4 separate regions of the Homo sapiens genome follow, and all the other regions are linked to region 2. The links come from fine-mapping of genetic effects on plasma protein levels. Region 2 holds a variant in brackets. A gene starts in each other region. All regions are shown on their reverse strands.

Region 1 (2,500 bases), not on the chromosome of region 2:
AGCCCTTGGGACACCTCTCTAGATAATGTGATGGGGGCATTGCCACATCACCAAAGCCATAGGCCACTGTCCAGAGCTGGGATTCAGATGACTGTGGACCTACTCTCTCCCACCCAGAAGTAGCCTGTTGCCTTGTGGGAGTGTCCCCCTGCCAGTTAGTGCCACCCTACCCCAAGTCTGTCTTCACTACAAGTACCCTTTTTTATTTTTATTTTTATTTTTTGAGACAGAGTCTTGTTTTGTCACCCAGGCTGGAGTGCAGTGGCACGATCTTGGCTCACTACAACCTCTGCCTCCAGGTCTGGGTTCAAGCGATTCTCCTGCCTCAGCCTCCCAAGTAGCTGGGACTACAGGCACGTGCCACCATGCCTGGCTAATTTTTGTTTGTTTTTTTTTTTTTTGTTTGTTTGTTTGTTTTGAGATGGAGTCTCGCTCCGTCGCCCAGGCTGGCAGGCAGTGGCGCCATCTCGGCTCACTGCAACCTCCGCCTGCCGGGTTCACGCCATTCTCCTGCCTCAGCCTCCCGAGTAGCTGGGACTACAGGCACCTGCCAACATGCCCGGCTAATTTTTTGTGTTTTTAGTACAGACGGGGTTTCACTGTGTTAGCCAGGATGGTCTCGATCTCGTGACCTCGTGATCCACCCGCCTCGGCCTCCCAAAGTGCTGGGATTACAGGCGTGAGTCACTGCGCCCGGCCCCCTTTCTTTTTTCTTTTCTTTTTTTCTTTTTTGAGAGAGTCTCTCTTTGTTGCCCATGCTGGAGTGCAGTGAACTCGATCTTGGCTCACTGTAACTTCTGCCTCCCAGGTTCAAGTGATTCTCTTGCCTCAACCTCCCAAGTAGCTGGGATTACAGCCGTGCACGACCATGCCCAGCTAATTTTTGTATTTTTAGTAGAGACTGGGTTTCACCATGTTGGCCAGGCTGGTCTCGAACCCCTGACCTCAGGTGATCCGCCCGTGTCGTCCTCCCAAGCGCTGGGATTACAGACGTGATTCATCGCGCCTGGCCTACAAGTATCCCTTCTAACTGAGGGCAACTGTAAAGGAAGTAGGGCATAGAAGAATAGTAGTGGGCCCTGTGCCCAGAAGGGAGGAGGAGGAAGAAAAAAGGGGGTACTTAGGGTACCCTACCCACAGGCAGGCCCCAGACAGCAGCTGGAGATAGCCAAATGTTAATCACCAATTAGCACAGTTCAGGTGGAAAGGGCAACTCTATTATGTGTAAAATGGACTTAATGTGGCAGGAGCTGTGGGCTTAATTTCTTGAGATAAGATGCTTTTAGGCTAATCAGCAGGTCTATGCCTAATATAAAGGAGCTGGGGCATGATTTCTTCAGCAGGCTCAGAAGGTCCAGAAATCAGGGGAAGGAGACCCCTATCTGTCCTTCTTCTGGAAGAGCTGGAAAGGAAGTCTGGTAAGAGAAGTGGAGACAGGGATGGATGAGATGACCCGAGAGCAGATGGATCTTGGCAACCCTGAGATGCTCAGCAGCCCTGGCATCTTAGTTTTCTCTTCCTCTATATGAGATGTGAGAAGATAGTCAGGTGCGGTGCCTCATGCCTGTAATCCCAATACTTTGGGAGCCGAGGTAGGAGGATCATTTGAGCACAGGAGTTCAAGACCAGCCTGGGCAATGGAGGGAAACTCGATCTCTACACATAATTTAAAAAATTAGCTGGGCATGGTGGTACATGCCTGCGGTTCTAGGTACTCGGGAGGGTGAAGTGAAAGGTTTGCCTGAGCCCAGGAGGTCGAGGCTGCAGTGAGCCACGATTGTGTCACTGCACTCCAACCCGGGTGACAGAGCGAAACCCTGTCTCAAAAAAAGAGAAAGAGAAATGAGAAGGTAGCGCTGATGTTTCCTTTATTTATTTATTTAGAGATGGAGTCTCGCTCTGTCACCCAGGCTGGAGTGCACTGGCGCAATCTCGGCTCACTGCAACCTCTTCCTCCCAGGTTCAAGCGATTCTCATGCCTCAGCCTCCTGAATAGCTGGGATCACAGGCGCGCACCACCACACCTGGCTAATCTTTGTCTTTTATGTAGAGACAGGATTTCACCATATTGGCCAGGCTGGTCTCAAACTCCTGACCTCAAGTGATCCGCCCACCTGGGCCTCCCAAAGTGCTGGGATTGCAGGCATGAGCCACTGCACCCAGCCTGGTCCATCTTTTGGTAAGATTCCATGTCCCTTCTAGTCACTAACTCCAGTGCACAGCACCCCTCATCTTCCCCCATGGTGTTGCCCCAGGCTCTTAGAAAAGGTCCAAACTGGCAAGGCGCGATGGCTCACGCCTGTTATCCCAGCACTTTGGGAGGCCCAGGTGGGCAGATCACAAGGTCAGGAGTTCGAGACCAGCCTGGCCAATATGGTGAAACCCTGTCTCTACTAAAAATACAAAAATTAGCCGGGAGTGGTGGCACATGCCTGTAGTCCAGGCTACTCGAGAGGCTGAGGCAGAAGAATGGCTTGAACCCAGGAGGTGGAGGTTGCAG
Region 2 (2,747 bases):
TATAGAGTTAAGGATTTCTGAACTCCATTATAAGAAAAAAAAAAAAAAAGGTGGGATAAACATAATTGCAGAAATTCATACTTTGTCTCAGTGTCTGAGAACTGTAGGGGTCACTGTTTCCAGACTAACATTTTCTAGTTTATAAAGAGAAGCCAGAAAACCAGATTTTTGTTAGCTATTTCCTGAGTTTCAGTATCAGAAGCTTACTTAGAACTTTTAAAGTAATGTGCCGTGGGCCACTTCTGCTTTAGTACCTTTGTTTTCTCTTTCAGTTTTACTGATTGTACAATTTTTTTGCCTGTCATAACTGGGATCAGGATTGGTCCCTCTTCTAACCATAATTAGGGACAATTGTTGAAGGTCTTCTTTCCTCTACTTGTTTACAACAGCTTCAAGGATTATATTATTTTAAACAACAAGCAGATTAATCCCTGTGTTCACTGGAGGGAGGTGAGAAACAAAGGGGAAGTTAGGATCAGTCCATTATTATTTATCCCTCAGTGGCACCTGCTAGAAAGCAACCCCGAGGTGACCAATTTCTTACAGTTGGTTCGGGGGTGTGAAGCCTCCACCTTTAACTGTGCCTGATGTCTCTGGGGAAAACACCCTCAGTCTCTTTGCTGGGTGACAAAGGGATAGTTTTCTGCAATAAAGAGTGATGAGGGAAGCTGGGGAAGATTGCTTTTGAAACAGACTTTAAAGCAATCTTTTTTTATTTTCCAACCTATTTGCATCCTAATGTCAAGTTATTTGGTGCCTGCCAATTCCTCAGTCATGGGGAATTCTGAGGCATAGAAAGGGTTAGTTCTTGGCTTTCCCTGCTGCTGGATTAACATTTCATTTTCTTGGGTCTGCTAAATTAGTTGCTTTTTTGCTTTCATAATTTTTTGTGATTGCTTCTACTCCTGTTCTCCCCATTTCATAAGTTTATGTCCTTAAAAAAATCCCTTCTTTGTAGTTTTTGAGGGGTTTTAGTGGGGCATGAAAGGAGACACATATATTTAATCAACCAACTTTACCTGAAAGTATAGTAGCCAAACAAATAGATACACTCTAAGTGTCTTCCGTTACTTGATAAGTTGAAGTATACTTAACACATTTAATGGAAAGCTATGCAA[C/A]CATTATAAATTATGCCAGTGAACAGTTATTGACATGGAAATATATCAGTATATTAAGTGGAAAGTGATAGGTTAATAGCATTAATAATAGTAGCAAACTAAGCGATTTCTCTGTCCTCACCCTTCTGCTAAGTATCTTAAATGGATTATTTCACTTAATCTCACAGAAAAATCTCCTGACATGTGGAATGAGAAGTTATGAATATCACAAACATAAATGTCTATGAAAGTAAAATTATTTTCATTTTCTCCAAAAATATAAATTTGGAGAGTATTACTACATTATGGCTCTCTGCATCATGAGTTTGTCAATAATTTTTACACCGAAATATTATTTTTCAAATAGTAACTTTACAGTGGAGAAATCTGGTTGATATGATACCATCTTAACCAAGTGATCAGAGATAACATCACTAGTAATTAGACATATGGACACCATGTACCTCCTGATACAAGTCAATGAAAATGACATAACATCACTTATTCCTACAAATGTTTAATCCCAGCCTAATCATTAGAAAACACCAGACAAACCAAAATTAAGGACCATAATATAAAATAACTGAATAGTACTCCTCAAAAGTTTTAAGGTTGTGAGAGACAAAGATAAAATATCCCAGTTTGGAGGAGACATAATAACCAAATGCAATAGGGAGTCTTAATTGAATACTGGACCATAAAAGAAGATATACTAATAGAACAGTTGGAAAAATATAAAGGTCTATAAATGAGTTAAGAATATTGTATCAATGTTAATGTTTTGGTTTAGCTAATAGTAATATGGTTACACCAGATGTAAACCCCAGGGAAAGCTGCATGAACGGTATACACAAGTTTTGTGTACTGTTTTTTCTTAATTTTCTGTAACTATAAAGTTATTTCAAAATAAAAAGTTGGAAAAATAAATTATCTTTTTTTAGTTGGCCAACTATACTATATTCTATTCTGGGTGCCACATTTAAAAAATTCTATTGAAAGACCCTATCCGGACAAGAGCAAGCAGAATGCCAAAGTGTTAAAAAGGTTGGGGATGTTTAACCTAGAGCAGAAAAAAGTTAGGCAAGATATAACAATCTGCCTTCGAAGTATGAATTGCTATCATGTATAAAAGAGATTGAGACTTGTCAGTGTGGTACTAGAGGGCAAAATTAGCATGCTTGACTGGAGGTAGTAATGAGGAAAGGTTTTATAATATCATTATAAGGAAGGACTTTGTAACCATTTCAGCCAATCCAAACCAAAGAATGGGTTGCTTTGGGAGACCAGGAATTGCCTAACAACTTGTTAAAAAATATCACAGAGGAGTGTCATGTATACCAGGCATGTTAAGTAGATCAGTGCGTCTCAAACTTTAATTGCGTATGAATCACTACGGACTCATTAACAATGCAGATTCTGATTCAGTAGTTCTGGGGTGGGGGCTGAGGGTCTGCATTTCTAACAAGCTTCCAAGTGATGCCTATAATGCTGGTATGTGGACAAGACTTTGAGAAGCAAGGAGCTGTATAATATTCAAGGTCACTTTTCAATACTAAAGTCTATAATTCTCATAGAAAGACATACTTCAGGAGCAGAGACAGCAGTTATGCACTGAGAGTTTAATACGAAAATGGCAATGTTTGAGAGCAC
Region 3 (2,747 bases), not on the chromosome of region 2:
GGCTGGTCTGGAACTCCTGAGCTCAAGCAATCTGCTTGCTTCAGCCTCCCAAAGTGTTGTGATCACAGGCATGAGCCACGGTGCCTGGCCATTAAGTTTTTCATAATCAGGTTTTCTGTTAGGTTTTCTTTGGAAGAAAAGAATTCTGCTGCTGAAGAAATGTTTGAAAAATCAGTGATCTGGAGCTGTATTGTCAGATGCTAACCACATGTGTTGTTCAGTGCTATAGCCACCAGCCACATGTGGCTCTTTACATTTAAATTAATTAAATTAAAAAATTATGGTCAGGTGCAGTGGCTCACGCCTGTAATCCCAGCACTTTGGGAGGCTGAGGGGGTTGGATCACTTGAGGTCAGGAGTTTGTGACCAGCCTGGCCAACATGGTGAAACTCTGTCTCTACCAAAAATATGAAAAATTAGCTGGGTGTTGTGGCAGGCGCCTGTAATCCCGGCTACTCGGGAGGCTGAGTCAGGAGAATTGCTTGAACCTGGGAGGCAGAGGTTGCATGTCACTGCACTCCAGCCTGGGTGACACGGCGAGACTCTATATAAAAAAACAAACAACAACAACAACAAAAACTTCCTTACACTAACCCCATTTCAAGCGCACACGTGGCTAGTGGCTACCATATTGAACAGTGCAGATGAAGACCATTTCCTGCATCATAGGACGTTCTTTTGGATGGCACTGGTCTAGGAAAGGGCTTGAAGTGGGATCCAGGAGCTGTGGATTCCTATCCCAGCCTTGCCTAATAATCCCTGTGACTTTGGGCAAGTCACATCTTGCCTCTGGGCCTCAGTTTTCTTGTCTGAGAGAAAGGAGAAGAACCCCAGTCCTCCTCACCTCCCAGGGCTGGGAAGAGTGTGAAGGGATAGGCTAAGGGCAGGGCCCCGGCTGCGGCAGAAGGGCAGGTGGAAGGCAAGGTTGGGAATACCAGGGTAGGTACTGGAGCCAAGACCTAGTTCCATCCTGGGATAAAGAAAGGGTCCCAGCTCTGGAGACCCCAAGGGGTGAGCCCCAGACTCTGGCCAGTGGCCTGGTACCTTGATGGGGGAGAGGACCTGTCAACCCACTTCCTAGCCTCTCCCCTCTCCTCCTGGGTTTTCTCACCTGCAGAGCTGGGAGGTGTGTGGTGCCACGGCTGGGCCTGGTGCCTCTCAGGTCTCTGCTCTGCTTGATGCTCCAGGCCTGCCTTATAAAGCCCTCAAGGTCCCTCCCAACTGTCCCCCCACCCCGCCCCTACCCTGCCATATGAGTCCAGGCGAGAGGAATGGGGTGGGGCACAGGTACAGCCCATCACCCTGCCCCGCCCTTTCATTTAGTGTCAGTCAGTCATCCAGGATGTGGGGGAAGGATAGGGGAGTTGACCTTCATGGTGAGGGGCTGGAGCGGGGTGGCGGCAGCTCTCCAGCTGTACCTGAGGGGCAGGAACCAAGCTCCCTGGGTCAGGAGCAATGCTTCCCACCATATCCTGGGGGTCAGAGGCCTGGCACTTATCTCTCGAACTACATAGGGACCTTTGTGGGTGGTGGTAGGTGAGGGAGTGAACCCGATGGGCTTAGATTCAGGGAAAGTGGATTTCGCCATCCACTGATGTTTGGCAAGCGTGTGAATGTGGGGTGATGTATTGATTCCCCGTCCCCTCCACTGGACTCTGCAAACATAACGTGTTACCAGGAGCAATGGGTTGTGGGCTGATGGCCCTGTTCTCTCCTTCTAGTGGCTCACATCCTGGTCACCTCTGAAGTCCTTTCACCCTCCCCCTACCATGGAACACCCTTGGTGCCTTCTTCTCCTTAGGCCCTCTGTGCTGGGCTGGGTTTGGCTTGTAGCTGCCCCGTGTCTTCTAGGTCAGCTGCCCATGCACCACCACTTGCAAACCCCCTATGCAGAACCAATTCCTGGAGGGTCCTGCCTTTGAAGCCTCCTTCATTTTGCTTTCAAGGGGAGCTAGTAATCTGCATAACAACTTTTTTTTTTTTTTGAGACAAAGTCTAGTTCTGTCACCAGGCTGGAGTGCAGGAGTGCAGTGGTGTGATCTCGGCTCACTGGAACCTCCGCCTCCTGGGTTCAAGCGATTCTTCTGCCTCAACCTCCCTAGTAGCTGGGATTACAGGCGCACGCCCCCACGCCTGGCTAATTTTTTGTATTTTTAGTAGAGATGGGGTTTCATCGTGTTGGGCGGGCTGGTCTCGAACTCCTGACCTCATGATCGGCCCAGCTTAGTCTGCCAAAGTTCTGGGATTACAGACGTGAGCCACCATGCCCAGCCAACAACTTTTCAGTATCAAAATATACCTTCAAATGGTTAGCAAACAGACTAAAGCATTTGCCAAAGATGGACCAGAAAACAAAATGGTACCTTGTTGACTTATTTGATAAACTGCTGCCTCCACATGGTTTGACCAGATGTAATGAGCCGTAGGCTGTTTTTTACTTTTCCACTGTTGAGAGCAGAGATTTTGCTCCTGTTCATGCGTCATTGGGCCCCCACCTTTTCTGGGAGAGTTTGATCCCCTTGGGTATTGGGTAACTGCAGTGGTACCCATGCTTACAGCCAGCCTTGCTGAGAATTAATGGGTGATGAAGGAAGCAGGCTGTGCGGTGTCCATGGCAACTGACGGCTGAATAACCGTTGTGAATAACCACTCTCATCTAGAGCAGGACACGGTGACTCAGCAGATGGAATAAATGAAAACGACAAAAAGCAGTGCAGGCATTGGTGATAATTAATTGAATCACAGAA
Region 4 (2,747 bases), not on the chromosome of region 2:
ACCCTGGTGTTTCCTGGGATGTGGAGTCCCATGGGGCCTGACTGGCTGATAAGGAGCCATTTCCGGAGAATGCAGGTGATTGAACCCATAAAATGGTGACAGAGAGCCCTGAACTCCCCATCTCAGGAGAGCTCTAAAAATAGCGCCCACAGCCATCTGTCCTGGGGCTGGAGGGGCTGGCTCAGAACCAAGGGCCTGGACAAGTTGGCCCCATCAGTCCCTATGGGCCGATGGGACATCTGGAAGTACTGGAGGTCTGGCGAGGCCAGGGAGAGGAAGCTGGAAGGGCTTTATGGGGAGACCTTCCCACAGCCCTTTCTCCTCCTGGGCAGGTGGGTTTGAGGGGGTTGGCAGTCTGAAGGTCCTTCCCCTACTCCGCCTCTCAGAGTGGGTGTGGGCCCTAGACTTAGTCTTCGGGTCCCTGCTCCCAGGCCTGCCTCTGGCGCCCCAATGGCTACTCCAGGTGCTGAGCCTTTCTGCCCCTCACAATTGAGAGGTCCTCTTCCTGGGTTCTGCCTCACCCTGCTTTTCCTGTTTGAATTGTGGGTGAGCTTGGCTGCTCCATCACCTCCCAGGGCTTCAGTTTCCTCATCTGGAAAATGGAGATAAACTCAGCTCATCGTCTTGTGATGCCCGAAATTATGCACTACCTAGTGCATAGTAGGTGCTTAATAAACACGAGTCCTTTCCTTCAAAGGATCTGGGCTTAGAGCCCAGTGGAGACTGCCATGGGCTGGGGACAGTGGCATGTGCCTGGGAAGCCTTGGCATCACTCAGGCCCAGAAGACACCAGTGCTCTGAATGACACCTGCATAGGGGTGGAGACACTCTGCCTTGGGAGGGGGCTCTATACCACACATGGCTGGACTGGGGTCTGTGTGTGCCAGTCTGGATACACAGGTGGCCGACTCAGCTGCTTCTGGCGGGGAGATTGGTTTCTGCCTCCTCCTGCCTCTTTTCCAACTCTTTAATAGAGAGAGGACATAATGGAGTGTTCAGAGAGGCCTCTCCCCAAGACACCATAAACTGCAGGTCAGGAGCCAAGGTCAGGTGCTCCCACCCTGCCTCCAGGAGAAAGACTTTCCCCAAAAGGTCCTGTCATTCCTCAGCCCTTCTCCAAGGTATTACTGAACAGAGGCTGAAAAGGGTTGTCTTTTGGAAAGAGTGGTCACACATCCCACGGACTGGAGGGAATGTGTCCACCCTCCCACCCCCAACTCCCATCCACGGACAGGCTAGGGAAGACAGAATCTCAACCCTGGTCCTAGGGGCTGCCCCAGGAGTCTAGATCCAACCGCTTCACTTCCTCAGGAGGCTAGACCTGCCACTGGGGGGCTGTGGGGTGAACATGGGGTTCAGGCTGGGTACCCCATCCAGTGAGACCACGAATCTGAGCATGGCAACTGCCCCCTCAGCTCCTGCGAGGTGGAGACATCACGCACTGGCTGGGTATAAGCTCAGCGATCTGGCGAGGGTGGAAGGAGGGAGGAAGAAGGGCCCACCCCCTGCTGGCTCCCCCTCCCCCTGGGACTCCCCCTCCCTTTCCAGGCGGGGATATAAGCCCCACAAGGAAAGCGCTGAGCAGAGGAGGCCTCAGCTTGACCTGCGGCAGTGCAGCCCTTGGGACTTCCCTCGCCTTCCACCTCCTGCTCGTCTGCTTCACAAGCTATCGCTGTGAGTGGCTGGGGGCTCAAGCCTGGGGAAACCCAGGCTGTTTTGTGGGGAAACTGAGGCTGGGATGGTGGAAGCTGGGGGTGAGTGGTAGGAAACTGGATTGGAGGGGGCCATCGGAGGTGGGAAGGAGGCCAGCAGCGGGGGTGGGGGTGGGGAGGCAGGCAGGGCTTATGCTCCTCTGACATGAGGAAACTGAGTCAGGAGACGGTGCAGTGCCCAAGAACACACAGCAAGCCCGGTGGCTGAGCCTTGGTCCGGTACCAGCCCCAGGGAGAGCGTCGGAGCGCGGCCCCGACGGCAGCCGCAGCCTCCCGCCGTGTAGGGTCGAGGCTTGGAATGACCCACGTCCCAATGTCGCCTTCCCAGATGGTGTTCGTGCGCAGGCCGTGGCCCGCCTTGACCACAGTGCTTCTGGCCCTGCTCGTCTGCCTAGGGGCGCTGGTCGACGCCTACCCCATCAAACCCGAGGCTCCCCGCGAAGACGCCTCGCCGGAGGAGCTGAACCGCTACTACGCCTCCCTGCGCCACTACCTCAACCTGGTCACCCGGCAGCGGTGAGCGCAGGCGCGGAGCGGGACCCCTGGGGCTCTCACCCTGCGGCCCCGCTCCACCTGGGGGCGTGGCCAGATCTGACCACGCTCTTCCCTTCCCCGCCCCCAGGTATGGGAAAAGAGACGGCCCGGACACGCTTCTTTCCAAAACGTTCTTCCCCGACGGCGAGGACCGCCCCGTCAGGTCGCGGTAAAAGCGCCCGTTACCACACATCCTGCATCCGAGAGCGCGGCCTGGCCCTACCCTGGCAACATCACTTAACGACGTCTCCCAGGCTCGCCTCCCCAGATCCAATTCCTTCCCCTTCGCTTCCGCAGGTCGGAGGGCCCAGACCTGTGGTGAGGACCCCTGAGGCCTCCTGGGAGATCTGCCAACCACGCCCACGTCATTTGCATACGCACTCCCGACCCCAGAAACCCGGATTCTGCCTCCCGACGGCGGCGTCTGGGCAGGGTTCGGGTGCGGCCCTCCGCCCGCGTCTCGGTGCCCCCGCCCCCTGGGCTGGAGGGCTGTGTGTGGTC

Which allele goes with the higher level. Alleles are on the strand shown, and positions count from the first base shown. The strength of an association depends on the size of the effect and on how common the allele is.
In carriers of allele A in region 2, the plasma level of the protein whose gene starts at base 1,339 in region 1 tends to be higher than with C alone (moderate association).
As copies of A replace C in region 2, the plasma level of the protein whose gene starts at base 1,168 in region 3 goes up (moderate association).
For the plasma level of the protein whose gene starts at base 1,584 in region 4, allele C in region 2 goes with a lower level than allele A (moderate association).

Evidence for each region. PIP is the posterior inclusion probability: the model's chance that the variant is causal. The UK Biobank Pharma Proteomics Project read protein levels with antibody pairs (Olink). The fine-mapping took linkage between variants from a reference panel, not from the people measured, so its PIPs are less certain.
Region 1: it holds the start of GIP, and the variant in region 2 is fine-mapped to the plasma level of the GIP protein (UK Biobank, PIP above 0.99).
Region 3: GAST starts here. The variant in region 2 is fine-mapped to the plasma level of the GAST protein (UK Biobank, PIP above 0.99).
Region 4: it holds the start of PYY, and the variant in region 2 is fine-mapped to the plasma level of the PYY protein (UK Biobank, PIP above 0.99).

Annotation. Positions count from the first base shown.
Region 1 is chr17:48,967,435-48,969,934 of GRCh38, reverse strand. GIP (gastric inhibitory polypeptide) reads left to right here and starts at 1,339. Exons shown (of 6, transcript NM_004123.3): 1 at 1,339-1,418.
Region 2 is chr5:96,437,477-96,440,223 of GRCh38, reverse strand. All of the region lies in intron 4 of LOC101929710 (a long non-coding RNA gene), which reads right to left. It also overlaps a transcript of CAST not described here and the pseudogene LOC102724070. Among named protein-coding and RNA genes, the nearest start is that of PCSK1, 5.6 kb to the right of the region's middle. The variant C/A (reference allele first, on the strand shown) is at 1,119.
Region 3 is chr17:41,710,752-41,713,498 of GRCh38, reverse strand. GAST (gastrin) reads right to left here and starts at 1,168. Exons shown (of 3, transcript NM_000805.5): 1 at 1,112-1,168.
Region 4 is chr17:43,952,777-43,955,523 of GRCh38, reverse strand. It overlaps PYY (peptide YY), which reads left to right and starts at 1,584. Exons shown (of 4, transcript NM_001394028.1): 1 at 1,584-1,674; 2 at 2,041-2,228; 3 at 2,335-2,415; 4 at 2,544-2,747. The coding sequence starts at 2,041. The coding sequence ends at 2,568. RefSeq lists an enhancer at 2,046-2,549.